Linked DNA regions of Homo sapiens: regions 2, 3 and 4 are each linked to region 1. The links come from fine-mapping of genetic effects on gene expression. A gene starts in region 1. Each other region holds a variant in brackets. All regions are shown on one strand. Distances are from middle to middle.

Region 1 (8,440 bases):
TCCAATTGGTTTTCTTCTCTAACTGCCTGTTGCTGCTTCATGTTTCCAGCATCCTCCGTTTCTCTCTGAGTTTATGATGCTTATTTTGCTTTCTAATTGTTTAACATGGTGTTCTTTGCCGCGTGTGCTGATCAGTTTATTGCTCCTCTTCCACAGTACTCGTGCGCCTCCCATTTCTCATTCCTTTTCTCCTATGAGTCCATATTCCCTTGGACTTGCTCATGTCCCCATGGAAAGGGCAAAAGCCCAGCCCTTGGCCTGCGTCCCTCCAAGTGAGCCTGCCATGACAGTGGGGGAGGCAGAGAGCCTCTAGCATTCTTATCCCAGCCCTATCACTCCCTGTTTGTAGGCCCCCATCTCCAACCCTACAAATGTCTTCAGTGAATCTCCCAGTAGGTTCCCTTCCTTCCCAGGTTCAACAGTTATAATCCCATCATAACCCGCCAGGGATGAAAATATTATTACACCCATTTTGCAGATGAGCTAATTAAGGTATACAAGGGCAAAATGGTTTGCACAGGTGACAAATCACTAGGACAGAGCCTGACCTCATTTATTTCTGTATTTAAGAGGGCAGGCTTAGTTTAATGCCAGCATGGTCACCCTTTCACATCTCAGGACCCTGCAGGCAACTTGGACTCATCTGGGACATTTCCCAAGCCCCTCAGACCTCATCAGGAAGGAAGAGGGCAAACAGGGGCCACTCCTGCTTCTGCCTGCCCCACGACTGGCTCATCTCGAAGCACCCCCTCTCTGGGAGTTTTGTATGTAGCACCCTCCAGGCGGATGCCCTGGCACAGGGCTTCTCTACAAATGGCTTCTCCTAGAAAGTGCTCCAGAAAGGGAGAAACACACAGTCCACACCAGCGGGCTGTCAACACTACAAGGTTATGGGGAGGATTAAGATAATGTAAGCAAAGTGCTTGACACATATAGGCACTTAATAAATACTAGTTATCATTGCAATAACAATAATACTAGTTGGATGAGCCACTGTGTCTCCAGCCACTTAGTTGACAGGCCACGTAAAGGACTAGAGGCAGAGACTAGCCCCAAAACAGGCCTGGGGTTGGTGGGAGGACCTCTGCCAGCCCTTGGAAACCAGCAGACTTTGGAGCCCATGCCCTCCTACATCCTGATGATATCATGGAAGAACCTACCAGCTACCCCTTCGGCACCAGAGGGAATCAGGGAAATGAACTAGCCTGAGGGTTGCCCATTGCTGTCCTGTTCAATATCTTAGTGCTTCCCAAACTTGGGGCATTCCATTCCCACATTCACAATTTTGACCACTTGTACTTAATATTTTTCTCTGAATGGACTTCACGTTAGACTCTTTTTTAACTTAGCTTCATCCTAAGCAATAAAATCTGCAAAATCATGGGTTTGATGTCCTAGTTATTTTTTTTTCTGGTAAAAAAAAAAAGATAACTATTAAGATTTAAAATGTTCCCCCAGATTCCACCTGAAATCACCTGGAGGATGCCTGGAGTGCTGTTCCACACCCTGGGCTCCCCCTGAAGTTCTGACTCCTTATCCCTACCTCTGCAGACACACTGGCTGGGCCATCTGGGGCCAAGGTTGGTGAAAACCCAGGCGTCTGGGTCCCCAGCAGCAAGAACAACTCCCAAGGAGACAGAGGCCGGCCCCCTGCATAACAACTTTGATGGCTGCGGCCCACCCTCCAACCACCTGACACATGTCATGCCAACGGCTCTGAGCCTCACATCTTCAAAAGTACTTTGAACAAACATTAATGACCTCTCAGCATTTCTCTGAGAGAGGGGGTGAGGGAGAGAGGGGGACAGGCACCATCCCATGCTGTCCTCAGCTGGGGGAAGAAACTAGGCAACAGAATTCCGTGACTTCACCAAAGCCACAGACTTAAGCTGGGGCCCCCTCCCCACCCTCCCTCACTTCCCCCAATGGCAACTTTAGTGGCCTGCATTCCTCTCGCTGGGAACACTACTATTTAATTAAAAACGACAGACTTTTGTTTTCCTCTCCCTCTTTCCTCCTCCCTCCCATCCTCCCAGACTGGATGCCAAGGAGACCCACCAAAAACATGCGGGTAACATTTGTTATGGCTTTGAAGATAAAAGTCAATTGAAGTAAGCCCTCGCTGTATTTCAAGTTTTCCCTCTAGCATGGAGCAAGCTGCCTGGCAGTTTAGAAAAAAAAGAAAAGAAAAAGAAAAAGGAGGGACTGCAAATAAATGTCATTCTGCAGGAATACTTTGTAAAAATAAACAGGCTGAAAAAACCCAAAACTTGATTAATGGAAATCCACTCAGTTGGCCTCTGTCTGGAGCTGTAAATGCATTTGTTCATACGGCTAAATTAGACCGTTTTCGTTGGCCTTTAAATAAATAAGTAGATCAAAAACTAGAAAGGGCAGGGGAAGAAGGAGAGGTTTGTAGTTCTCTTTTTAAAGGGCCCCAACTGCAGTGCCCCCCGCCCACCAAGATTTGACCTTTACTAGGGGACAGCAGCTCCAAGTCCGACCCGGCCAACAGAAGACAGAGAAGCCCCCAGCTAAGCAGTGGCGGTGGAGGAGGACAGGGGAGCTTCTCCTAGGCCCAGAGGTTATTTCATCCACACACAGGAACTGACTTTATCCACAGGTCCACCTCCCGACACCAGCACTGCAAGCGAGCTGCCAGGTCCCACCACCCAAATACAAACACATCTGAAGTCTCCACTGGCCTCTCCCCAGCCCATGGATAAGACCAAAGAACTAACCAGACCTGAGACTCAGTCTATTCCCCCTCTAAGTTAAAAAAAAAAAAAAAAATTAAATGTCACATCAAAAAGTTGATTCATCCTTTGATCCTAGGCTTGCGCGAGTTCCACGCAGACTGCCTGAAAGCCCCGTGCAGAGTTCCGGAGCTCACAGGACATCTGTGAACGCCAAGTCCCAGGCCAGGAGCTGGGGCTGGACTCACTCATTCCCATCACACTTAGTGCTCCTCCAGGAACTCCAGCCTCAGAGACACACGGGGTGAAGGCTCAGGGCTCTGCCCAGGCTACAGTGGAATGAGGCCCTCTATCTCATATGCCAAGTAAGGGGTCTTCCAGGTCTCAGTCCCCCTAGATCTGCTACCCAGAGGGCCGCCTGCTCTACTGGGGTTCCTGTACAGGTGGTACTGATGAATGCCACAGACAATCAGAACATATTCAGATCCTGGGGCCAGCACAGCTCTGCCTTCCACCCAGACACCCCTAATACCCCCTTCTCTCTAGCCCCTACTCCACCTCCACCTTTGAATGCTGGTGGCAGAAACAAGGTAGAAGTCAGAGCAGGCCCCCAAATCCCGCCGGTACAGACACGATTCCCCATCAACTGGACCTTCACCACCTCCCCACCTAGGACCTTTCCCCCAGGCAGCCCTCTGCCTCCAGCTGGGCACTTCGAGGTTCTCCAAGGCATGCGGGCAGAGGGTCGCGTTGGTGGGGCAGGGGGCAGCTGAGAAGAGATTTTCAGACCCAGAAGCTGTGCAGGAAAGTGCTCAAAGTTGGGGTGCATGGGTTTGGGGACCCATCTCTGAGGCTGAAAGGAGGCCAGGAGGTGGGGCAGGGGTGGGGAATCATACCCGGGTGCTTCGGCCTATGGTGCCCGCCAACCGCAGCTGTCGGGGTCCCGAGACACCGCCCGGGCAGCGCTGTCTCCCGATCCACTCCTCGATGCCCTTCCGAGCCCAGGCAGCGCTCACGGCGAAGCTGTCACCTGGGACGGGGACGACATGAAGCCCCTGAGTCTGGCTCCAGGTGCCAAAAGTTACCCCCGCGGAGGGAAGAAGGAGGCGCGGTGGGAGGCGAAGGACCACGGCACGGGGGCCAGGAGGGGGTTCGCGGGCTGGGGCAGGAGCCAAGAGAGGGACGCGGGTAAGTAAAGGGGGGTTCAGCGAAGCCCTAGGAGCGAGGAGCCAGAAGGGGGCAAGAGGGGTGAGCAGTACCCCAGGAGGACGGGTTTAGGATCAGACCAGGGAGCACTGGCAGCCAGGACTGCGGAGGAGAGGGCTGGGGGTCAGGAGAGGGGCCGCAGTAGGTGCAGGAGCCAGGATATCGGAAGAAGGGCCGGGGGGCAGGAAGAGGGGGCAGGGTCTTGCGGGGAGGCGCTTGGGGGTCTGAAGAGAGGGTGCCGTGAGAGCCGAGGGCAGGGACGCGGGAGGGGGAGGGGTTGAGGGTCAGCGGTGGGAGCGCAGGACCGCGGGGAGCGGGTAGGAGGGACAGAGGAGGGGGCGCGAAGGCTGCTCAGGGAGCGGGCTTGGGGGGCCGGTGGCCGGAACTGGGGCTTCGGGGTGGCCCTGGTCATAAGACCTGGCGGGCTGGGCCGTTCTGCCGCGGCCGCGGTGTCCCCCGCGTCCATCCCCGAGGTCTGCGCCCCGCGCGCCCCTACCTTCCGGGCTCTCCCTGCGCTTGCACACGGCGGCTGCAGGCACATCGCGAGGCGGCGGCGGCGGCGGCAGCCGCGGCGGCGGGAGAAGGAAAGAAAGGAAGGGAGAGAGTTAGCGACCGCGGCGGCGACGGCGGCGGGGCCCGGGGCGAGCGCGCGGGCGGGGGCACTGACCCGGCTTGGAGTGAAGTTTCCCCATGCTGGGGCTGCGGCGGCCGGGAGCGTCCCTAAGCCATGCGCCCGGCCCGCGGGCCTGGCGCCTCCCTTGGCTCTCCTCCTCCCGAAGCAGCCCCCGAGCCGAGCGGAGCCCGAGGCGGCGCCGGGACGCGCTCCTGCCGCCGTCGCCGCGGCCCGACTGACGCCCGGGAGCGCCGAGCCCCCAGCCCGCCGCCGCGGCCCGCGCCTCCCCGCGCGCCCATTGGCCGGTGCGGCGCATCAAAGGCAAGGCTGGTTGCGGCGGGGGCGGGGCCGGAGGCGGGGCAGGGCGGGGACGAGGGCGGGGCGCTGACGGGAGGGGCGGGACACAGTCCGCGCTCCCTGCCGCGGTCTGGGGCCGGGGGCCGAGCTCCAGGGCTGGCGACCCGGCGGGGCGGCTTGTCCAGGAGGCGTATTGGGACAGAACAGCCCGGCCATCGCTAACTGTACTGTCACTTCCCTCCGCTCCACGTTCTCTCTAAACGGGCAGGGCGGGACTCGGCGGCTCCAATTTACAGGTGGGGAAACTGAGGTCGGGAGCGGAGACCTTAGCTGCTCAGGTGCAAGCTTCGGCAGCGCTGCCTTTTCCCAGTCTTCCCACGACCTACCTTCTGCAGAAAGTGTTCATTACCCGCCCCGTGACCCGCCCCCCACCACCGCACTCCTCTAGTTTCTTATTTGGGGAGTCCAGGAGGAGCCCCCAGCGCACCCCGGGCCAGTGTGAGCCCAGCCCTCTCCAGGCAGCGACAAATGTCCAAAGCGCCCCGTTATCAGCCAGTCTCTGGGATCTCCTCGTCCGGGGGCCCGTGGGTGCCCGCCCGGGTCGGGGCGCGCTGCCAAACTGCGCGGCCCGGAAGGGGGTAACCGCTGAGTCTTTGATCTTCCTTGGTTTCCGCTCCCCGCTGCAGTTCGCCAGACCCAAGGGTTTGTTTGTTTTGTCTGGGGAGGTCTCTGCGGGGAGGTCGCGCGGGGGGAGGGGGATGGTGGCGGTCGACATCAAGGGATTCCACCCCACCTTTGTGGCTCTCAGAACGCCTGCCCCCTTCTGGGGACACTGTGGGTCCGTGTTACGCTCGTCCTGGCACCAGGCAGCTCTGGCGTGGGAAAAGAAAACCCGCAGCTCAGAGTGAGACCAGCCCCGACCTTTGGAGTGAATTACCTGTGCTCAGTTTTGTGATCTGTATAATGGAGGCTCCATTCTGCCCTTTTTGCCGACTCTCTAGAGCAGCACTGCCCAATAGAAATATAATGTGGGCCACATTTGTAATTTTAAATTTTCTTGTCGCCACATCTTTTAGAAGTAAAAAGAAATAGATGAAATATTAATAATATATTTCGCTTAACTCAATACAGTCAGCCCTCCTTATTCACAGGTTCCACATCTGTGGCATCAACCATCTGTGGACTGAAAATATGCAAAAAGAATAATACAGCAAAAATAAAGAATAAAAAACTTTTTAATATAGTATAACAACTATTTACATAACATTTACATTGTATTAGGAATTACAAGGAATCTAGAGATGATTTAAAGTATTCAGAAGGATGTGTGTAGGTTATATGCAAATACTACAGGACATTTTATATAGCGGACTTGACATCTGGGGATTTGGGTATCCTCTAGGATCCTGGAACCAGTCCCCAAAGACACCAAGGGAACACCATATATCCAAAATAGTATAATTTCAAGATATAATGAGATATTTTACATTCTTTGTATTGCGCTAAGTCTTTAAAATTCAGTGTGTATTTTACACTTAAAACACATCTCAAAGACTAGCCATATTGCAAGTGACCATTTGCACTTGGCTAGTGGCTACTGCATTGGGCAGCATCGCTCTGGAAGATCTACATGTCTCAAAAGGACATTAGGAATTCACAGCCCCCCAGAGTCATAAATCTCTTCATCCAAGTGTCTTACTTTCATGTTCCAAGCTTCCTTTTTTAACACCCTTTTTGGTGGAAACGAAGGCTAATGTTATAAGCAGGTACACTAAAATCCTGTTGGCCAGGTGGTTTCATTTGAAGAGTGCTGAAACCACAAAAATATATTACTGTTGTCATTTTTATGTTACAATTCTTCATTCAGTACTTCTGATGTGCCAGTCCTCATCCTCCATCATGTGTAGCCCTCGCAACCACTCTCTGATGCAGACTCATACTTGTTCTAGAAAGGAGGGAACCTATTCAACTCAGAGAGGTGAACTCACTTGCCCAAGGTCACAAAGTTCATCCATGACCCAATTAGGAACTGAACTCCAATCTGTTGATTTCATTGCCCAGGCTTGTTTTCACTACATCAGGTTGTCCCAACACAGTGCAAAACTAATGTTCCACCACTAGAAAGAGAGTCTTCCATCTGGAAACAAATATGAAGGGCCAGCCATGTGACAACCATTGTTTTAGTCACCTAAGATACATCGGTGAACAAAATAGACAACTGCCACTCTCATCGAACTCCCACTCACCTAGGGGGAAGATAGGCAAGAAACAATAAATGATGAATTAGTAAACAGTGTAGTAAGTTACACCAGGGGTAACAGGCCATTTTTCTTTCTTTCCATCCCATAAGGACCTGACAGCAAACAATTTTGCCCTCTAGGGGACACTTGGTAATGCCTGGAGGTATCTAGTGGGTAGAGGCCAGGGTTGCTGCTACACATACCACAATGCATAAGGCAGCCCCCCCACCCTACCAGAACAAATGATCCAGCATCAAATGTGGGTAATGCTGAAGTAAGAACCCCTGAGCTGTAGGAACATGAAAAAGTGGGGCAGAACGGCGGGGGTCAGGTGTAGGAGGGAGGCAGGGGTTTGAGCATCTGAGTCGGAGTGGGCACCCTCTTTCAGACCCCTCAAAAGGCAATGGAATTCGTCTGGAATTCCTGTTTGCCTTTCTCACCCCTCCCTGCTGGTACCAGGGTGCCTCTAAATCAAAGCAAAACTTGGAGCATCCTTTCTCACAGTGCTTAGAAAGTTGGTTACTTTCTTAAACCGGTCCTGGCTTTCTTCTTCCATGAGAAAAAAGTATCCCCTCTTCCCCTTGGGAATTTCTTTTTACAGTTCAAAAAGAGATAAAAGCAAGAACTAAAACTGCAGTTAGCAGTTTGAGTCTTGCGGGGAGTAAATCCCAAATGTCCAGCCCAGACACAAAGCCCCCCTCCACCTTCACCCTGGTGCCTCCCAGCCCAGCAGGCGCCTGGGACTTCACTGCTATTGGAATCATGATACCCTTACCCGGATCTGGGGTGAGAACCCAAGAGATGGGCCTTGTGGCAAAATGTTAGTCTGTCCAGGTCTCTGAGAAGGGGGTCTCCAGGGGCCACCAGCATGCTGTCTACCTGGGGTGGCCATTCGGCCTCCGAGGGCTTCCCACCCCATAACTCACTGTCTTTTCGTGTGTTTTAATAATTTATCTGGCCCATTTCTTGGGCTGTATACTTGCAGTGACACATCTTTTTCTTTGAAGATTTCCTATCCTTTGGGGGAGGAGAATGGGAAAGGAAGGCAAGGAAGAGATAAGAGAGAGAGATTATAACAGAAACGGGTTTCATGGGGCTTGAGATTTAACAAGGCTGGTTTAGGTGAAATCTGTCAGACATAGAGCTGGGAGATTTAAAAAAAAAAAAAATCCTACATCACCCAAGTTAGCTGCTCCAAAGCTTGTCCCCGAAGTTAAGCCATCTGATCTGGCCCCTTCAAATGCCATTTCCTAAAGGAAGCCCTCCTTGACCTTCCAACCTGAAGGGCTCTTCTCTGCTCTGATTAGCCAAGGTTTCCCTGCCCCCTCCCATCTCCACTTATTTTATGCATGAGGCTAAGTTTCACTCCTGGAGCCAGGGCTCCTTGA
Region 2 (5,000 bases), 210 kb after region 1:
CACTGTGCATCCGCTGGAGAAAATAACTCGCAAGATAAGCCATATCTTTTGAGGTTTTTCTCACCACTCTGAGTGGGAGAAACCTATGTAAGAGACTACTTTAGGGAACGAATCAAGGGTGATCCTGGCACCATACCATACCATGGCAGGCAGGCAGAAGAGAGTTTTCATTTTAGCTCTCTTCCACTAACTTGTGGACTTTGGGCAAGACATTAACTACCCTGGGACTCAGTGTTCTCATCCCTAAAGAAGGGTTTAGTCTGTGGTCTCCAAGATGATTTCTAGCATTACTGTTCTGATTCTAGATAAGAGGTAGAGTAGAGAGGATACTATGAAAAAGAACCACAAGATAGGACAGGGATTTTGCAAAGAAGAAATGAGTGGGTATAAGACACTGGTAGAAGGAGAAAGGAATCAGAGTCCAGAGCTTGAGCTCACATTCAGGGGAGTTAAAGGATGATAAAAATGAGTCGTGCATCTGCATGTGGTTTTTCGATTTTTATGGTGATTCATTTTTCTGTATTACAGTTTTACATTTAAAGAAATGCCTTGGTGTGCAGATGTCTGAGTGTCTGTATGCTTGGCTGAGAGATTCTTGGATTCACTTAACTAGAGAAAGAAAAACATGTTTGGATTGTTGATTATTCTTGCGCTCCTAATATTTAGACAACTTTGGTTCCCACCCTTTCCTAAAGACTTGGGAAACTAATGGAAGCCAGTTACCCATCTTTGACAACATTCGCAGAGGAAAGAGGAATATGAAATGTTTACCCATTCTTTGCAGGAAGACTCTCAGAATCTAGAACCATGCCATATTCCAGGTTTAAAGACATGGAAATGCTTCTTGTTAATGTATTTGAAGTAAAAATGCATTTGTCAAATGCAGCCTTTAGTCACTCCAAAATATGTACATTGAATTGGGTGGTGGGAGCCTAATTTTTAATGACCTTTGATTTACCACTTCCTTAAGTAATGTAGTTAATACAACAAGCAAAAGATTCCATTATCTCTTGAATTTTACTGGCGTGTGGAATGGTTGAAAGCACAGAAAATAAAATTTTCTTCACTTTCCCTTCCCTCTCTCCCTCTTTCTTTCTCTCTGTTGTCTTCCTTTTTTTCAGATCTTTTGCTGTTGAGGAGCCCCACCCATCCTGTGTTATTAGCTTCCTATTGACTGTTCTCTCCACCCTACAGGGGAGGGGTCGTCACAACAGTGATTTTTAAACGTTTAAATTTAGACCTTTTGAGTTAACTCTTCTAATAGTTTGTGCTCCAAGAGAGCCCAGCACACCCTTCCGTGAATGGTGTCTTTTCAAAGATAACTGTTTTTGAATGTTCATTGAAAAAATTGTAGAGTAGTCACTCATCATTTTTTCAGTTACACTCAAATAACAACTATTAGTAGACGTGTTATTTTTATAAAGAATGAACAGATGAGGCCAGGAACAGTGGCTCATGCCTGTAATCCCAACACTTTGGGAGGCTGAGGTGGGCGGATCATCTGAGGTCAGGAGTTTGAGACCAGCATGACCAACATGGAAAAACTCCGTCTCTACTAAAAATACAAAATTAGTTGGGCGTGGTGGTGCATGCCTGTAATTCCAGCTACTCAGGAGGCTGAGGCAGGAGAATCGCTTGAACCTGGGAGGTGGAGGTTGTGGTGAGCCAAGATCACGCCACTGCACTCCAGCCTGGGCAACAAGAGGGAAACTCCGTCTCAAAAAAAAAAAAAAAAAAAAAGAAGAATGAACAGATGAAGAGTAACTTTTTATCTCCTAAATAAATACTTGAGTAAAATGCTGCATTGTAGTACAAACAAAGTAGTACAAACAATACTATTTGTAGCATAGTGGCTTTGAAATCAGACCAATCAAGGTTCAAGTCCTAGCTCTACCCTTTGGAAGCTGTGTGACTTTAGCCCAGGTAACCTTTGTCAGCCTTTTTCCTGTCCTGTAAAGTGGGGATAATAGTAGTACTTACCTCATGGAGTTGTGTCTGGCACATGGGTAAGCACTAAGTAAATGTTAGCTATATTATTAGCAAAGAACCAGCCCTGTTAGCCATTTAATATTGTAAAATTGAAGATCAATAATGTGCTGACTTGGAGGCATTTTAATTACCAAAAAAAGAAAAAGACATTGCTTTCAAAGGAAAATTAAACTTCACTCTTTCCTGGGACTTGTTTCAAGGTTTAGAAACTTTCTCTAATTGAATTTATTTTGTGCATGTCGTGTTTTTTAAAACCCCAAAGCATTCTTAATGTAAGTTCTGCTTTATAAAATTCTAGAGTGGAAATAAAATTATTACTGAGAACTTACAGAAATAATTAAACTCACTAATATTTTTAATGTAGCAAAATAAAAC[G/A]TGTTTTTAAAAATCAAATAAGATTGCTTTTTGTTGTTGTTTGTGTTTTTTGTTTTTTGTTTTGTTTTTTTGAGACGGAGTCTCACTCTGTCACCCAGGCTGGAGTGCAGTGGCGCAATCTCGGCTCACTGCAACCTCTGCCTCCCGGGTTCAAGCGATTCTAATGGGTTAGCTTTTTAAGTGATACTATTGATTTTGTCAAGGATTCAGAGAAACTTTCAAACACTAATGTAAATTAGTATGTAAATTGGTATACCTTTTCTGGAAAGCAGTAATTATCAAAAGTCTCAAAAATATTCATTCCCTTTGACTTTGTTTCCTTTCTAAGAGTTTATCCTAAAGAGATACTGGTTCCTAGAGAGATTTATTTATAATGATGTTGATGGTACTTTTATTTATAATAGTGGAAACATGGAAATCTAAATGTTCAATCATAGGCCATTAATTAAATCATGGTGTAGACGTGGGATTAAATAGTTATTAAAATATTTTAAATATCTATTGATATGGAGAGGAAATGCTTATAATTTATTAACTGAAAAAATGCTTTTTACTAAATATTCAGTATAATTCCAATTTGCTGGGTTATGTAATGGTTGGAAAAGTACTGGAATAATAAACTTGTTAACACTGTTCTTCTCTGGATGAGACATTAGGAGGATTTTTATTTTCTCCTCTACCCATATTTTTATTTGTCCACAATAAAATAGATCGCTTTAATGGTTTTAAGATTACTTTAAAAGTCCAGTAAAAAACAGCAAGAACTGTGTTGGTGAGGATGTCACCATCTGCACTACTAATAGAGCATGGTGTGATGAGGAAAGGCCCAACATGAGTGACAGCAAGCCTAGTCTTAGTTGCTGGTTTAGTGACCTTAGGTGAGTCATTTGTTGTTCCTGGGCTGCGTTGTTCTTGTTTGAATGGCCTCTGGTTCTTTCTAGTTCTTAGTTTATGTTACTCCACAGAAGTCTTCCCTGCTGTTGCTGTGCAGCCCTAAGGAGGTTGCACTCTATTTTACCCAGTGATAACTTTCAGAGTACAGGCAAGGTAGTCAGTAGAAACAAATATGCCTTCTTAAAATTTACGGAGAAACCTCAAGCCCTTAACTACAATGAAAATTTCACAGCACATCATTGCAGCGAAAAATTAAGCACATGTTTCACAGAATAGAAACAAGACTTCTTTGGTTAGCGAAACCATTCTGCACTCTGAGGAAGGAACTGTGCCACCAACTGTCTTCTCCTCAAGGCTTGTTGTTTTCACACAGAGTGAAATGCCAGCGTCATCCGTGAGCACACTGGGCTACCAGAACAGAGAGGGACTTCACACGCTCACATGCCCTAGGCTTTGATACACCTAACAGTTCTTAACTGTCAAAAGATAAGCCTGTCTGTTAAACACAAAATGTTAACACACCATTAAACTAAATTTTAGTCTTCCAATTCAGTACTTCAAAGAATACTTAGTCTTAATTCATACTTTCTCCTCTGTTAAATTTCTGATAGGGCAATAAAGTTGTAAAGCTTTCTATGAAGTTGGAAATTAAATTTTAAGAATTGAAGGTGTAGGCATTATCATGGTTTCCAAATACAATACTCTCTTGGTATATGATTACATTTAATTGTTTTTCTTCCCTGGTTAATGACAGGATAAGTATAAACTCCTGTGGGGAAAAAAATGCATTACTTTAAAAGTTAATGACAAACATATAATAAGAATATTTTCGAATATGTTTAGGAAAGAATTCAGAGCCTGAAGCAGAGCATAGACTTCATGGCTGACTTGCAGAAAACTCGAAAGCAGAAAGATGGAACAGACACCTCACAGAGTGGGGAGGACGGAGGCTGCTGGCAGAGAGAGAGAGAGGACTCTGGAGATGCCGAAGCACACGCCTTCAAGAGTCCCAGCAAAGAAAATAAAAAGTAAAAGATCTTTGGGATGTTAAGGTCAAACTGTCTTCTTCAAGCTAGTAAGGGGGAAAAATACTTATTCGGGGCCTGACTTGGGAAGACCAAGTGCTAGTGTGTCGGTGGTGGTGGTGTTTTGGCATGAAAGTCCATTTTGATGGTGTGATACCCCTCTTCTCATATGAAGCACTATATGGGATTGTCCAAACACAGTTCAGAAAGCAGTTCTAATGTGTATTCTTATTGAAGTAGTTTTAAAACCTATAAAGTGTCTTTTGGGACTGATATGGTCAGTGAGTTTATTTAAATAGAACTGTTTGTTTAAGAAAAAATGCATAGTCATTACCTCCTTCCATAAAGGAGCAAGGAGTTCAGTGGGAGCACAGGCACTGCTGCGTCTTAAGCAGATGGGCTGTCACTGCAGCGTGCCCATGTTTTCCACCCAATGTCAGCTGGTGGGAGCAACGCTGAACCACTGTTCCACCTAGGCAGCCACCTGTGCAGCTGACGGCAGCCGCATCTGCCCGTTCACACTACTGGGAGCCAGCCCTGACCGCCCAGCACCTCACTGCCAACTTTGGGGAGGGTTGTAGTTAGCAGTTTGGGATTTTTGCTGTCATAATGCAAAGAAAGTAAACTAGTGACAAGTTTTTCTTTGTTCTAAGATTTACACACTTAAGTGCTTGTTTTAAATTTTAAAAATCAAACTTTAAAAGAACAATGGTATAT
Region 3 (8,440 bases), 47 kb before region 1:
CATGCTTTCGGAAAGACAGGATTTAAAGAACCTACCCCCTGGCCCCCACAGTGGTCAGGCTGGTTCCAATAAGTAGGAAGACGGTGGGTGGGGGAGAGACACCAGACAAGGTGGGCACCAGGAGATGCCACCAACCTTCCCACCTGGCCACCCTCCTTGAAGACTCATGGCTTCAGTGTGATTTCTGAGCATGGAGAAAAAATGACTAATGGGGGAAAAAAAACCCAAAACACCAACACCAACAACAGAAAAGAGTAAATCTTGACATCACCCAGAATGCTCCCTGATCTCAAACTGCTGGCATTTCAGAGCCCTTAAGAGATGAACCAATGTAGGGCCAATTGCCCAGAGCCAGGCAGGGCACGGGGTGGGGAGACTTTGCTGTTTGTCTGACCACAATTTTCCGACTAGACAGTGTTCAAAGGCATTTCTACAGTGGAAACTGGGATCTGATGGGCATGTTGGGGCCTGGGGGTAACTGAGGTCATGAATATAAAGGACTCAGTGATGATGATAACCAGTCTTAGTCAGTGTGCGACATCTGCCAAGTGTTCCATGAAGCACGTTAGGGGCATCACCGACCAAGTGCTCCCAGCAGCCCTAGAAGCTGGGCTCTGCGATGACCCCCACTTTGGCCATGAGGAAACTGAGGCTTAGAGAGGTTAAGTGACTCACTCGAGTTGTCAGTCAGGTCTGGGTTTGAGCCTTGGTTCTTCTGCTTTTATACTGTGTGACTTTGTACAAATGAGTCTACCTGACTATGCCTCAGTTTCCCCAGCTGAAAGTGGAAATGACAGCCCCCACCTGGCAGGGCAGTTGTGAGAGGAATGGAGAGTATGTGTACAGTGCTTGGTGAGTGGCCTGGCTCAAATAGCGTGTCCCAAGTCACAGCTGTCACCTCCTTCTCCCTCCGGGCCCTGGTCTTTCATTCTCTTCCCTCACATGCTCTCTTCTGCCCTGGTTTTTGTCAGGGATGCCACAGCGGATCAAAGCCCAGCCCAGCACTGCCTCATCACCCCAGAAGGCCTCAGGCGACCCCACTTCTGGCCGGCTGCAGAGAGCAGAGAGAGTGCACTCAGCGCTTGTCGGAGTCTCTGCCCTCCCACCCACTGCTGACCACACACACACGGCCTTCCCACCCACCACTGACCTCTCTAAGCCACTGCCCACCACACCACTGACCCCACCACACCACTGATCCTGCCCCACCACTGCCCACCACACCACTGACCCCACCACACCACTGATCCTGCCCCACCACTGCCCGCCACACCACTGAACATTGCACCACTGACTCTACCATGCCACTGCACATCGCACCACTGATCCTGCCACACCACTGCCCACCACACCACTGGCCCCACCATGCCACCACCTGCCACACTGCTGACTAGCCCAGCCACTGGCCCGCCACGCCACACAGCCGAGTGCTGATAAGAGGAGAGGCCCGAGGGCCTGTGGCGTGCCTCTGATCACCAAGCAGCTGGGGCGGCATCTGCCAGCAGTTCCTGGCCCTGGGACAGGCCCCCGGTCTGCTGCCAGGGTCTAGCACGTGTGACCTGCCGACAGGGTGGCCCTGAGCCAGGCTGCTTATGACAGGCAGCACTGTCATCTGGCCCCAAGGAAGGGTGCCCCATAGCCATAGGCCACCTCACTGTGGGGAAAGGATGTGTGCTCCTGCCCAGGGAAGGGGCTTGGGGACCCAAGAAGCCTGGAATTTCTTGCTCAGCCTCAGGAATGAAGGGCTTGAGCTTCTTGCTTTTCTGAACCTAAACGAAACAGATGAAGTAAGAGCCTCTTGATTCCTATACCCTGAGGCCTCATTTTACGGACAGGACAAGAGTGTCCATGAGCACAGGTGTGCGCGCACACACACACACACACACACACACACACACACAGAGTCCACCCATGCGGCCCTGCAGTGCCCTGGAGAAACCATCTTGCAGAAGCCATGCTCCTACCCACTCTGATCCCATCAGCCCTGGGCCTCCCACTCTCATCTCCTGGCCCCTTCTGTCCCCTTGTCCCCAAAATAGCTCTAAGAAACTTGTCACCATCCCTCTCACAGGCCAGACCGCCCACTTGGAGCCTCCCAGCCCTGGACCATCCTGTCCCCTTCACCCGGAGCGCCCTCCTCCCTCTACTGCCAGTGAAGTCTTTTGCCTCCTCCGGAGCCACTGTGGATTTCGACTTCCCACCATCCCCAACCACCAGATGAGGACATAATCAAGAGGGTCACACTGGCGGCTTCCAGAGGACTCGGTTCATTCTGAAACTCAGCAGTTCGCATGCTGCCAGGGCTGTGATCGAAAGCCTCAGTGGCCACATCTATAAAATGAGGGCACCAATCCCACCCGCCTGCCACGCAGCAGTGCACGATGATCACACCAAAGGTGGGTGTGGAAAAGCCGAGAAGGTGAGAGGGGCCATTTGGGAATGAGGGCCCAGGGTCCACAGTGCTGTCAGATAGGAAGCTGCTGAGGAGCAGCCTAGTCCGCTCCTGTGCTGTTGATAAACAAAAAGGTGCGTTTTCCAGAATGTTTCTGGAAGGCCACGCTCCACTTCAGAAATGGGAACTGGGGCGCTGTCTCCTTCAGCTGTCTGATTTTCTGGGTGATTTGAATTTTATATTTATATTCTCTCTTTTTAAACCAAGAACATTCAACCCTTTTATACTGAAAAAAATAATAATAACTTTTTCCAAAGCGGTTTTTCCATTAAAACAAATGATGTGGCTCTCCCTCCTGTTTGATGTCACCAAGTTGCTCAACAGGCACCTCAAACTTCATGTGTCCAAACCGGACGCCTGGCGGCCCCCAAACCTGTCCTCCCCAGTGCCTTCCCTGTGTACACAGGGCAGCTCCCTGCTTCCTTCACTCTGGCCAGACACCCCAGAGGCTTCCGCACATCCTGTTGGCTCTCCCTCAAAACACACCCTGAAACCAATCATTGCCACCTCCTCCACTTCTGCCACGCATTCCAGGCCACAGTCCTCTTGAATAATGACAACCATTTTCTATTCTCTGCCCTCGTCGCCACCCCAACCCCTACCCAATTCCCCAAAGTCCCACCAAAGCCCATCAAAGCCCCACCCAATTTGTCTGCCCTATCACCTCCCTCACCCCTTCTGTTCCTCCCCATTCACCCGCTCGCCCACAGCCACACAGGCGTCCTTGCTGTTTCTCCAACAGGTTCAGCTCATTCCCCATTCAGGGTCTTCACAC[A/G]CGCTGTTCCCTCTACCCGGAAGACTCTTCCTCTGGATAACCCCTCCCTCCTGCCCCTCCTTCAGGTTTGGGTTCATTATCACCTTGTCACCTAGGTGAGGTCTTCCCAAATCTCTTTATTTAAAACTGCAGCCCCCTCTCCCACAATCCCTTATTTATCTCTGGGGCATTCCCACCATCTGACACATTATGTATCAACGCCTGACGGCGGAGGCACTCGACCAGCGTGTGTTGAACCACCAAATGCAGCTCTGTATTTACTGACTCAGAAAAACACGCCCTGCATTTTCTTGAAAGAAAAAAGTAGTTGCCAAACAGCAGAGAAAATGTGATTACATTTCCTAACATTATCTGCACGTGTTTCCACGCGCTGTAGTAGGAGGCACACGTCTGCAGAGACGGGCACCAAAATGCTCCCAGAAATGGTGCCCGGTGCTGGATTCCAGGTCACCCAATGGTCTTCCATGAACACACATGATTACTTCTACAATCAGAAATTACAGCAAAGTGTTTTGAAGGAAAAAAAAAATGCTAAAACATACAAAAATGGGCACCCAAGTTGGTTCTAGAAAGACTCACACTCAGAAGTCTGCTAAAAGGGTCTTGGCCCTAGCAGTGGCAAGACCTACAGCATTCTGGTGAAATGGGTGGCCTCCTGATTCCAGCTGGGAGGGAAGGTGGAGACTCCAGACTTTGGTCCACCCAGACCCCATTGCTCCCTTCCACAGCCACACAGTGCACCCAGGCCACAAAGAGGCCACAGCCACACCCATGCCTGCTTCTCACTGCTCTCACTGTACATGCATAGGAAGCCAGGGGCTGTGTAATGCAGACAGCGCTTTGATTCCAGAAATGGCATGAGACCAGCTGAGCATGCAAGCCAGGCTGTCATCGGGGGCTCAGGGGGAGCAGGGTGGCACTCTCTCCTGCCCATCCCAACCAGCACACACCAAATTTTGCTGTTGCCATTCTCAGGCAACCAAAGATCTCAAAGCAAAAAGTATGGGGATCTAGAAGGCCACTGCCTGCCCCTGCAGGTCCAGTCAACAGCCCACATCAGGGGCCCGTGTCACCACAGGGTGGTCACCTGGGAAGCCAGTGAGGTCTGGGAGAGTCCGTATGGTCAGCATGGAAGGTTTGAGGCCACTCTTGGGCCTGGGGATAAGAAGGTCTTCATGGCAGTGACTCCACCCATCACACCTGTACCTCACCCATCACACTTGTACCTCACCCAACAACCCCAGGAGGTCCACGTGTGAGCTATTGCTGTTTTTACAGATGGGGAGACTTAGAGTCATAGGGGAGGCAAGAGAGTGGTAAGGCTGGGAGAAACGGAGCACTCCCGAGAGGAAGGCCAGGGCTCTCAGGACATGCCCCTGGGTGTTCCTGGATCTGGAAGAGAGGCCTCTGCTGTCTGAGCCCCACATTTCCACCAGGACCACCAGCATCAGGCCAGGCCAGAGCCTTTGTTCAGAGGTTCTGACCTGCAAGAAGGACCCAGCCCCTCTGAGAATGTCCCCCTAGAAAAATGCCATGCAAAGAAAATTGCACATTGAATTTCAGGGGGTTCATGAACCTCCCCACTACAAGTCCTTTTGTGAATTTTAGTTTAGGAACCTCTGAGAGTCCAGATGGGGAAACTAAGGGCTCAAAAAGGGACAGGACTTACCCAGGGTCACAAAGCCAAAGAGGAGCAGAGCCAGGATCCGAATATAGAGGACCCACAGCTGGTAGCAAAGAACCAGCGAGCGATGAGTTCCCTCGGGGAGCAGAGGCACAGGACAAGAGCCCCCACACACCCTGACTGCCAAGGGCTGGAGCACCCAGACCAACAAGCCCACCTTTGGACGGTTTCTCCACAAGCACTGTCTCAGGCAACCAAACATTTCAAAGGAAAACGTAGTGGGTCCAGGCATGGGGGCCCAGGACGTTTGGGGAATGCTGCGTGGACTTCTCAAGCCTTTCCAGACCACCTGTAGCAGGCCTCCCACGAGGTGCTCACAGATCAGGGGTCTCCTTACTTCTTTAGACCCTTTGATAGCAGTCCACCTCCCCAGGGCACCGTGTGCACGTGCAGATCCCCCCGGGTCTGTGTGCCCCCCTCCCTTCCCTATGTGCTCCCCACCAGCAGCTCACACCTGGGGGCCCTCTTCAGAGGCCTGCCCTAGGGCTATGTCTGCAGACTCAGAGAACTGCCGTGTCCCCACCCCAGGTGGCCCTGAGCCTGGTGCAGGAGAATGAAAGCCCATACCTCCTGTCACGACAAACTCAGAAGCATAATTTATACCCCAGAGCTCCCCCAGAGGGTCAGACTGAAGCCAAGACTTTGCCTGAAATGGCACCTGTGCTTGGCTTCTTCCTCTTGTCTGTCCTGCTTCCTCCACTGCCTCACTGGCCTGCCCTGCCCTGGGACAGTGTCCTGAGTGAATCACTAGCACGTGACCCTCACCTCAGGCTCTGTTTCTGCAGTCCCTGACCTCACAGGGCTCTCCCCTGAACTACGCGGGTAGTTGGAGGAATCCTGACCCACTTGGTGAATTCACAGGGAGTAGGCAGGCCAATGAATTGCAAGCTGGTTGGTCTCAGACAAAGCAGGTGGAACATCAGTCCAGCCCAGAAAGGCAATGGTCACACTGTGGCCAATCCAGCTACGTGAGAGGCCAGGGACCCTGATGCCAGGGCTCAGGCCTGAGAGGCAGAAAAATGGAAATGGACATTTTCTTCCCACCCCACCCCACCCCATGCCAGCCCCACTTCAGGAAACCCCCTCCCCATCTTTCAGAGCCTAATTCAAGTGCAAGAAGCTTGTTCTAAGCACCTTGTGCCCCAGGAACCTCTCTCATTCAGCCAGCGCGTTTCAGGCTGGCTTCACAGACTGTAAGTTTGGGAGGAAGCCGAGGCTGTAGGAAGCTCTTTGTCCCTCATCTGGCTCCTGCAGTGGGCATCTGAAATTCAGAAGCCCCTGGTCTCCAGCGCCCCCTTCCTCCTTCTTCTGGGAACACTTTGATTTTCCCTGGCGGCTTTCTAGACCTCACAAATAAAAACATAGGACATTCAGTTAAGTTTGAATATCAGATAACAGATCACTGTGTAGCATAAGTATGTCCCATGTAGTATTTGGGATAGACTTAAAACACAAAAAAATGAAGTGCTATTTATCTGAAATTCAAATTTAACTGTGTGTCCTATATTTTATCTGGAAACCCTGCCCCTCCATTCCTCTCACCCACATGGTGTGGGCAGGCTGATTTCTCCCCGTAACCACCAGGGAGGGCACATGACCCAGGCCTGCCCAGTAAGAGCTTCGCACCACGCCAGCCATGGGGACTGGTCAGGGCCGGGCACACAACCCAAGCTATGCCAAGGAGAGGCAACCCCAGGACATCTTCTTTCTCTCTGTTGACTTTGGTGAGATGTGAGCTGAGAGCCTGACCCTACTGAGAGCACTTTACCACCTCACAGAGAAATTCTAGCTATGAAAAAAGCTAATACCCAGGAAAACAGAGCCACGAGGGGATGCAAAAGGGGTCCTGACATCATTTGAGCCCCTGGATCAAATGGTGCCTGAAGCTAGTACCTCCCCTACATTTTTCAATGACGTGGACCACAAAATCTCCCCTTTTGGCTTAAGCCAGGGTGAGCTTATTCTCCTCATAAGCCAGTGAGTGAGTCCTGCTCACTCGCTCCTCCTCACCCTTGCCACCTGGGCATGAGGCTGGGCAGAGTCTATGCTCAGAGAACATGTTTAATTTCACTAAGGAGGATGGTGTGGGGCGATGGGAGAGCCTGAGCTCTCCAGTCAAGCAGGCACAGTTCCCGGCCCCACTCGGTTCCATCCTCGTTCCAAGTCCTTGCACAACAAACTCTCCATGAGCCTTGGTTTCCCTATTTGTGAGATAAACATAGGTACTTATACCTGGACTGCCCATATAATGCTAGTGCCTTAACCAGGACACTTTAGAGAGACAAAGGGAGTGCTGTTCATACCCAGGTTGGGAGAGACTGGAACTGCCCTGGGTAAAGGGACCAGGGATGCCGTCCCTACAACTGACCCTGCCTGTCTCCACCCGCTTCTGCACTAGCCCTCCCCCACAGCCCATGCCTTCAATTCCGCCCCCTCCCCCTCCCCATCACCACCCTCTGTGCAGGATGCTCCCCTACTCGCTGCTTCTCGCTGCCTCCTAATTCATTCTTCCAGTCTCAGAGAAGCCATCCCTGGAGCCCCGGGCTCTGTGCGGGCCCCACTCTGCATCCTCCTTGCAGCCTTTGGCGCTCTGTGAGACAACTACTTGTGGCTTGCAGGCTCCCCAGCCGGCTAAACTCGTTGAGGACAGGGTCCGTACATTTCTCCCTCATTACTGAAGGCCCTTACAGAGCTGGCATGGTGCCTGGAAAACGACACATAAAATAGCAGACAAAAAAGGACACCGCTAACCCTCTCTTCCTCCTCTCTGCAGGCTCTGTATTTTCTCTGTGCATCGATAAAACCATCCTGGCTGCGATGCCAGGCAGGGACAAGTGAAACTATGAATCATGGAGTGGGGAGGGCATGGGGCAGGGCTAGGACCCACCCCCAGTGGGCCCAGGACATGCTGGCAATGTTCTCAGAGCCAGTGACTTGGGGACAGTGGCCTTAGAAGGCCCCGCCCAGTCCAGCAGCCCCCAGGCGGCGGCAGCAGCAACGCGCTGGCCTTGGGACAGCTTTCATTGATCCAAGGCCAATGTGGACTGGACCTGAGCCGGCTGCCTATTCCAGCATCCAGCCCTGGCCCCTGCTCAAAACACAGGCCTGGCGTCTCCCTGTGGCCTTAGCCAGCTCTGTCCTCAGCGGCAGCCAAGTCACTGCCCAGAATGCAAATGGGGCAGGTGCAATGGGCTTCTCCAATCTGAGACCAAGGCCATCACATCCCACACACAGCCCAGGTTGTTCCACACACAAGCAGACAGGGTCCCCTTGGGTTGCTTGGCCCCCGCCCACACAGCTTTCCTGCCTATCCCCGGGCAGCCACCCCACCTATTTCTTGGTTCAGCCAGGCATATAGCCTGAGGTCAATTACCTGGAGAACGCATTGCCACACCAGCTCCCTGGCTCGCACCCCAGCCCAGGTGGCGCACGCTCATTTTATTTTCACAGGGCCCCTTCCTGGCTCCACAGCCTTCACTGGCTCCGTGCTTCAATCAACTCAAAACCCTCTGAAGTCTTGCTGTAGCTT
Region 4 (8,440 bases), 160 kb after region 1:
CCTGGGCTCAAGGGACTCTCCCACCTTAGCCTTCCAAATTGTTGGGATTACAGGTGTGAGCCCTGCCCCTGGCCTGAGTAGGTGGTCTTTAAGTTCCCCACTTCACTGCAAACAGCTGCTCTGCTTGTATCTGCTACACACACTGAGCTTCAGAATAAGATCTCCAGGCTTTTTTTAAGTATCTGCTTATTAAAACACACATACAATTTAAAAGCCACAGGCCTTGAGGGCCTCTGCTCGTTCCTTCTGACCTCCTTGAACCTGTGATTCTAATCGGACCCTGATGAGCTCAATAAGAGCTGGACTTCATTCTACTCAGTTTCAGCAAAATAATGAATTCACAAAGTCTAACCATCGATCAAAAACCAAGAATCTGTGGAAAATCTGTTCTGCCCTCCCACCCCAGAAAAATATAATACCTGCCTGTCCTCAAACACCAGGCCCAGAAAAGATTTCTAAAGGACGTTCACACCCCCAGGGGATATAATAAGTCTCCAGCTGCTTTCTAAGCCAGAGAGAGAGGGCCTCTGGTCACAGCCCTTGGAGACAACTTGCCCAACCCCATCTTTCTCTGGCCAGATCCAAGACCAGGGTCTCGGCTCCTCCTCTATGCTATCTTCTTCAGAGGACTCAAAGGGGAAACTTCTCATCACAGCTGATCCCAACCCACCTTTCTTTCCTTCCAGAAGCACAGTTGGCTCTGCCACCAGGGTAGGAGGCCCACAACAGAGATTTCCTGGCCTCTTGGCAGCAATGTGCCAGCATGAGATGAGGCTGTGCCAGCATAAGATGAGGCTTCCATCTGTTGTCCTCCCAAAAAGGGAGAGGAAGTCCAGCTCCACAGAGAGGCAGTGCCACAGAGCACATGTGGGAGGGGGCAGCCTGCCCACCAACCCCTACAGGGAACCTTCCAGGTAGACAATTTGCCCCTCCTTTTCTAACCATGCCTCCACATCTTCTCAGTCTGGTGAACTCCTACTGATCCTTCAAAACACATCTCCAATGTTACTCCTGTGAAGCCTTTCTGAGCTTCCTTCTCACATACCACTCCCAGCTCATGTGCCACTTCATCCATATCTGTCTTGCGTAGCTCTGAAATCAAATGATAATAATGTTTCCAGGAAGAGCGCACACTGGAAGTGGAAGGACCTCAGTTCAAATGTCAGTTCCCTTATTCAATAGCTATGAGACTTTGGACAGGTCACTTTGCCTCTCTAAGCCCCAGTTTCTTTATCTATAAAGTTGAAAAAATAAAATTTATTCTCTAGGCTGGTTTTTGTTTGTTTTTAACAGTCTTGCTCTTGTCACCCAGGCTGAGTGCAATGGCACAATTTCAGCTCACTTCAACCTCCTCTAGGCTGGTTTTGAAGATTCTGTGATGTACGTGAGAGAACCTAAAATTATGTCCAACACATAGAGGCACCCAAGAGAAGTGGGCTTCATTTCTTCCTTAGAAGAGTTGAGTTTCTCAAGGACAGGAACCAGGTCTTCGTTCATTCATTTATTCACTCGTCATCACTGAACTCTTGTTGGGAACCAAGCCCAGAGCCAGAAGTTGGGTTATGTAGCAGGTCACAAAACAAACTCTGTCCAGGGTCCATACATCTCACAACAGTCTTCCTCACCTGTGTCTCTCTGGAACCTGCTGTGGCTGACACTGATCCCACTCTCCTCAGGTGCTTTGGGCAAGGGCAGGTCTTCCGAGTCCAGGCTGAAATTTGCCCGCCCCTAGGATGGTCAGCAGGACTCTTTTCAGCTCTCGACATCCTCTGAGCCTTGTCTGAGCACTCTGGGAGGAGAGAGATGAAAAGCAGCCATCATCCCCACTCTCAGGGAGCTCCTGATCAGACGGAAGAGACCCCCATCTCATACCTGGAGGGTTTTCAGCCTGATGAAAGAGACAGACTCATCGATCTCAACCTTGAAAACTCCCAATCTGATGGCAGGGTCACATTTTCCTGATTTGGGGAAGTCCCATTTGGAGAGGAAAGAGCAGAGTTCCATTTTCCCTAATACTGCAAACTCTTAGTCTAATGGAGGAGACACATGCCTCCTGATCCTGGCCCAGTTTATCACTGATGGGGGTGAGATTGTTCCCATCACAGGAGGGGACCTCCTCTGATGGGAGAGGCAGTCTGTGCACATAGATAGCTTGAGAGTCAGATAAAACAACATGTATGGGGGAAAAAAGAGATCAATGTAGGGTCCTTTTGAAAAGCTGGCTGTGCAAAGTCTCTATCCATTTGTCTGTGGACTCAGAAGGGATATTCCTGGCTCTACAGATGCACCGTTTGAACTCGCAGAGCTGGACATAAATGACAGAGGCATCCGCCTCACGAGCATCCAGTCAAGCTCCTCACCAGACAACCCACACCAGAACTGGCCAGAGGCCCCGTCACTGGCATCCTGCACCAGCCTTGCCAGGGGAGGCTTTCTCACGATCAGGGACATCTGGGCTGGCCCAGCTCCCAGAGGCCACCGACATGAAAAGCGAGGGGCTCCGCGGAAACACCATCTGCACATCATAAAGCCGCTTGGTGACTCCCAGGGTCTGCCTCCATCTGCGGCTGGGTTGCCCGGGAAAAGAGAGGAAGGTACCAAGCGGCCAGGAGGAGGGGGCCAGGGGGAGAATAAGGATGGCCAAAAGGGGAGAGCCAGGCTGGCAGGCTTCCACCTGGCACCCTATGCACTGGGGAAGTTAACATCACCTGGTTTGTCTCCCTGTCGCTGCCTGGGAACACAGTGGGTTATGCCTATCCCTGGAGGTGACTTGGTGACAGGGGTAGAATACAGTGCTGGTTATGCTTTCAGTGGCCATACCTCAGTTTCCATGTCCGTACATTGGGGGTAATAATAATCTCGTCCATATGGTGGGTTTGCTATGGGAATTAAAAGTAATACAAGTATTGAGCTATACACTTAAGATCTGTACACGTAACATCTGCAATGTGTGATCCACACCTGGTTTAAAGTAAGTGTTCAGTCATCGTTGTCATCATCCCGCCTCCCAGACACTGTCCTGCAGCTCTGGGAGCAGGCATCTGTGATGGGAGGAGCCATCCAGGATATTTCACTGGCCATCCTGCCCAGGGCCCCACCCTCAACACCAAGTCCAAAGCTGATTGGACAAAGGATAGGGCCTGGCCCAAGAAAGCTCATTTATTGGCAGTTGAGCAGAGCCTATCAGATTCTCTGTGGAGAACTTGAGCTGGAGTTGGTTTCTGCCTACGGGTGATCACCTTGGGCCATGTTGAAGCAGAGGAAGGAGGCAGAGAGGAAGAGAAAGAACAGAGATGTAAGAACAGCAGAAATGAGAGAGATACGAGGTTCCTGAGAGGTGGAAAGAGGTGACAGAAGGGAGAAGGCCTTCGGTCATTTCTTTTGGGTTCCCATGTGAGTTCCCAGTAGATAAGGCTGTACCAATGATCATGAACCTATGGTTTGTGCCAAGAAGTACAAACACAAATATGCACATACCACACTCCCCACCCCACATCCCATCATACCAACATACTGACACCCCTTTTTACTTTTTTCCTTACAAGTCCCTACCCACATGCAAACAATTTCCTGAATGGTAAATCCCAGGAGACCAATTTAGTGGAGTGGGGCTCAGAAGCTGAGAGAGAGAAAGCAGTGAATAGTTCCGGAAAATAGCATTTTTGGAGAAAGTGGAGAGAAGAGAAAAGATGGCTGGCTGTAGGAGAAAAAACATAGGTGCACAGAGAGTGCTCAAGGGGAAGTCTAGAAAGTTTCTGAACTGTGGTGCATGATCCTTGCAGCAGAGCATCGTCAAATCATATCACCTGCCATCTCCCGGTTCTGCTCTCCCCCATGTTGGCTCCATCCTTTGCCCCTCCAGCTGGCAAGACAGCTGCTGGCCTCTACAGTGGCGTCAGCCCTCAACCACAGACAATAGCAGGGGCTCCAGTGTCTTGGTTTGGGCTCCCTCAGAAGGAGACCCTTAGTCAACGATTTTAGGACAAATGGTTTCCTTGGGAAGTGATCACAGGAAGTACTGGTAAGGGAATGGGGAAGAGAGCCAGCACGGAGAAGGAAGCCAATACAAGATATGTTACCATGCAGTTATCTCTGTGGGCACCCGGAGCCTAATCCCACTGGGGAACTGTGAGGGCCAGGGTAGAACATGCACCTCGCAGAGAAATGGG[G/T]TATTTATCCACCAGCTCCCATCAGCCATTGGTTGAGGGCTGCCACAAAGCTGGGACTAGGACTCCTCAAATTTTGCACCCTACGCACCTCACTTGCCTCCCCTGGCTACCTTGGCAACTCCTTGGCTCCATTAGCCCCCTGACTTCTAGCCCCTGCAGCACACATGGACAGAGTGGGCCCCAGCAGCCTGAGAGAGTACTCAAGCATAGACCCAAAGACGGGCAATTGGAAGTTCAGCCCGTGTGCATGGAAACGGCAAATACCAAGAGGCTATGCATGGGGCCCAGTCAGGGGCTGCTACATCCTGCAAAAAAAAATCTCATAGTATCTCAAAGGTTCTGATTGGGTCATATGTTCATCCCTGGACCAATCACTGAGGCCAGAGGGATGTGACACGCTAATTGAGTCAGTCTTAAGAGTGGTGGAGGGGGCAGGAAGAATGAGGGGGTAAGTGTGTTCCCTGTGTACCTTATAGAAACGAAGAGCATGAACCATAGCAACTCTCAGAAATAAGACAAAGAGGCATCAGTTGGGTGGCCAGGAAAACAAGACACACAAATGACCACGCCTCAGCCCCAAGTTGCAATTAATCAGAAGGTGAGAGGGTTGGGTTTAGCTTGTCAAAAGCCCTTCCAGCAAAACCCTTTAGCTAGTCACTTTAAACTTTGGTTTAAAGCATTAATTGAGCACTGACCTGTGCCAGACATTATGTCAGGCTCCGAGAGGACACAGATGAAAAGGTCTAATTTCTGTTCTCTGGAAACACAGGCAAGGGTGGCAGTGGAGATGGAAAAGCCAACGACTGCTGTTTCAACGATCATTTCAGCAGATCTGTTAATGAGATGCCACTGATCGTGACACACACAAATTATTTCATGAGCCACCAAGGAAAAAGAAAAGTTGCCAATTAAATATGTCACACCTTGGATAATAAGATTTATCCCGATTTTAGAGATATGAAATGTAAAAAAGATGAGTTTTAGAACTGATGGATTTTGGTCATATTTCATAGCTTATAAAGGATTTTTTTTTTCTTTCTTGAGATGGAGTCTCACTCTGTCGCCCAGGCTGGAGTGCAGTGGCGCGATCTCGACTCACTGCAACCTTTGCCTCCCAGGTTCAAGCAATTCTCTGCCTCAGCCTCCCGAGTAGCTGGGACTACAGGTGCATGCCAACATGCCCAGCTAATTTTTTGTATTTTTAGTAGAGACGGGGTTTCACCATGTTAGCCAGGATGGTCTCGATTTCCTGCCCAGCCTATAAAGGATTTTTTTATAGACACTATCCCATTAGGTACTCACTACAAACCTGCTGGGGGTAATATCACTGCTATTTTCCATTCCGTGAAACTGCACTCAGAGAGGTCAAGTGACTTTCCCAAGGTCGCTAAGCTACTAAACAGCCAAAGTGGAACTCAACCCCAGGTCTGCCTGGTTGCAGAACCAGGAGACCACCAGGTCTCCCTGACACTTTTGTGACTCCTGGTCCATCTTTTTACCAAACATGGACCTCGCCCATCTTTGTTTGCCTCCCACTTCAAAACAAGGATCCCAACCAACTCCACCTCCCTCTGCTCCCACCCACCCATATGCCTGGTCTTGAGATTTCTGTTCCCAGGAGCTTTCTTCCCTTCCAGGCAAAACAGCCTTCCTTGGTGACCACAGGCAGATCGTATGGTCACCCAATCATTCCCAGCTCCCCTCAAGGCTACTGCCATGGTGAGCACTACTCAAACCTGGGTCCCTACCAAGGATTCTATTTTGAAGGAGCCAAGCCTTTGTCCCCCAGAATACCTTAAATTAGACCTATTTGATAATGGTTTGTGTGATAGTTTCCTCATGTATATGTTCCCTCATGAACATAGGGGTTCACACTTGGATTAATGCTCTGAGTTCCTACCTTGAAATTCTTAATAATTTTGAACAAAGGACCCCACGTGTTCATTTTGCACTCAGCCCTACAAATGACGTAGCTGGCCCTGGTGAGAATGGGCCCGCCACACTTAAAAGTATCTGAGCAAGAAGTCGGACTTGTTGCCCCATTCCTGGGACTCCTGAGGTCAGGAACTGTCCTGGTCACCTCTGTATGCTCTGGGAACAGGCAGTGCTCAGTTCCCTAAGCAGAGGGACTCCTCAGTAGGCACTGAATGAAGTGTGTGTGTGTGTGTGTGTGTGTGTGTGTGTGTGTGTGTGTGTCCATGCACACACAAGTCAGCCTATGTTCTTTCAGTTGCAAGGGCTAGAAATCCAGTTCAAAGTACACAAAACTCAGAGGGGGAATTTATTCAACCCTTGGATTGAAAAGTGTAAGAGGTTGATGAACTTCAGGCTCAGCTGGATCCAGAGACTCAATTACTGTCACCAGGCCACTAGCTCTTGGCTCTGCTTTCTCCACCATTAGCTTTATTCTCAGGCAGGGCCTCCTCTCAAGCCCCAAAAGCACCAGACTGACATACCACTGGCTCAGCAAGCTTTTCATGGAAAGGTCCCACCAAAGCCAAGCCTCAGTCCCTGCCCACCTCTGTACCAATCACCAAGCCAGGGGCTATGATATTCTCATTAACCAGATTCCAGTCACAGGCCCACCTCTGAACCAATCATTGGTCCTGGCAGCTGTGATACTCTCACTGGCAGGCCTGGGTCACATGCTCACCCCTGAACCAATCCTCACTGGCCCTCGCGGCTGTGACACTCTCATTGGCAGGCTTAGGTCATGTGGGGAGAGGAGGCTCTCTAAGTGGAAGTCAAGAGGCTGTTGCTAGAGAAAGTGTTTATTTGGTGCCCAATGGGCAGAAATAACTAGTAACATCAAGGCTTCTCTCTGCCTATGTCCCAAGATGGTCACTTGGGTCTGAAAAGCCTGAGAAACCTGCTGACGCAGAAGAGCAGCCTTGGAAACCTAGCAAAAAGGGAAGGCCTGGGACATACCAAGAGTCCAGACAACCAAAAGGCCCACAGGAGGGGTCAGCAGGACCGGGGCAGATCAGACAGGTGCCAGAGGCAGGCGACCACTCTGCACAGTTACCACCAGAGGGCAGCTGGCCAGGAGGCAGGGTAAACAGGAAGAGGTCAAGTAGCCTTGGGGAAACTCTGTACCTTGCCTGAGGCATGGCAGATAATAACACTGACTACTCACCCTTATTGAGCCTGGCCCTGTCCTAAGCATTTTTATGCATCAACTCAATGAATTATCACCAATGAGATTGGTACATTTATAACCCCATTTTACAGATGAGGAAGCCAAGGCTTTCAAGTAACGAGCCCAAAGTGTCATACGGCAGAAAGGGGGCAAGTCACGCGTCTATTCCACCAAACCCTGAGCCTCCTGAGGTTAGGGGCTGTGTCTTGTTTGTATCTGAAGTCCCTGTGGACCCTAACAATCACTGTGCTTAATGGATATCTGGTGAAGTGAAAGCCTGGGGCAGGGGGCGCTGTCACTGTGTTCTCCACCCTCCCCACCCTCCCCATCCCAGGAGGAAATTACCAGGCTCAGTTCAGGCAATACCCCTTCCAGGTGTGCTGACCTTGGAAGATGATTCTTAGACCTTGCCCTTGCTCTGTTGTAATGGACTCTCAGGCACTACAGTACTCACATCAGTAGAAGAGAGAGTTTGAGATTTTGCAAAGGCTTGACAACTCCAAAGTCTCATGGTGTAGGTCACTTATTTTTGTTTGAGGCGGTCTTGCTCTGTTGCCCAGACTGGAGCACAGTGGCACAATCTTGGCTCACTGAGACCCCCACCTCCAGGGTTCAAGCAATTCTTGTGCCTCAGCGTCCCAAGAAGCTGGGATTACAGGCATGTGCCACCATGCCTGGCTAATTTTTGTATTTTTAGTAGAGACAGAGTTTCCCCGTGTTGGCCAGGCTGATCTCCAACTCCCGGCCTCCAGTAATCCACCAACCTAGGCCTCCCAAAGTGCTGGGATTACAGGTGTGGGCCACTGCAGCCGGCCTGTAGGTCACTATTTATGCCTCTCCCAGGAGTAGCTGGCTGTGCAGTTGGGGGGAAGAGGAAGAACATATTTAATGTGAATTCATTCATCATCCTCCACTGGGCTCCCATGGTGGGCCAAATACCATGTTGAGTGCCTTGAGGGGGACAGAGGGAAGCATGACAAAACCTCCTCTCTCCAATCCCCTCCTGGGAGGAGAAATAAGTCACTGCCAGAAGGAAGAACACAGAAGGAAGTCCTGCCTTCCACAAGAGAGGACTTCAACCGTCTAATCATTTGGGCAACAAAAATGTATTAGGTACATGTCAAGTGCCAGT

Evidence for each region.
Region 2: its variant is fine-mapped to the expression of NKD1 in T cells (TOPMed, PIP 0.92).
Region 3: its variant is fine-mapped to the expression of NKD1 in tibial nerve (GTEx, PIP 0.95).
Region 4: its variant is fine-mapped to the expression of NKD1 in cerebellar hemisphere (GTEx, PIP above 0.99). The same link has a PIP of 0.9 or more in cerebellum.

The regions. Positions count from the first base shown.
Region 1 is chr16:50,544,708-50,553,147 of GRCh38, reverse strand. NKD1 (NKD inhibitor of Wnt signaling pathway 1) reads right to left here and starts at 4,752. Exons shown (of 10, transcript NM_033119.5): 1 at 4,570-4,752; 2 at 4,399-4,431; 3 at 3,593-3,726. The coding sequence starts at 4,594. RefSeq lists silencers at 4,430-4,619, 4,660-5,109.
Region 2 is chr16:50,333,997-50,338,996 of GRCh38, reverse strand. It overlaps BRD7 (bromodomain containing 7), which reads left to right. Exons shown (of 17, transcript NM_013263.5): 7 at 4,102-4,286. Among named protein-coding and RNA genes, the nearest start is that of BRD7, 32 kb to the left of the region's middle. RefSeq lists an enhancer at 3,312-3,391. The variant G/A (reference allele first, on the strand shown) is at 2,365.
Region 3 is chr16:50,591,691-50,600,130 of GRCh38, reverse strand. The region is part of intron 3 of NKD1 (NKD inhibitor of Wnt signaling pathway 1); the gene reads right to left. Among named protein-coding and RNA genes, the nearest start is that of NKD1-AS1, 18 kb to the left of the region's middle. RefSeq lists an enhancer at 1,651-2,151. The variant A/G (reference allele first, on the strand shown) is at 3,228.
Region 4 is chr16:50,381,023-50,389,462 of GRCh38, reverse strand. No RefSeq gene overlaps it. Among named protein-coding and RNA genes, the nearest start is that of LINC02178, 9.9 kb to the left of the region's middle. The variant G/T (reference allele first, on the strand shown) is at 4,170.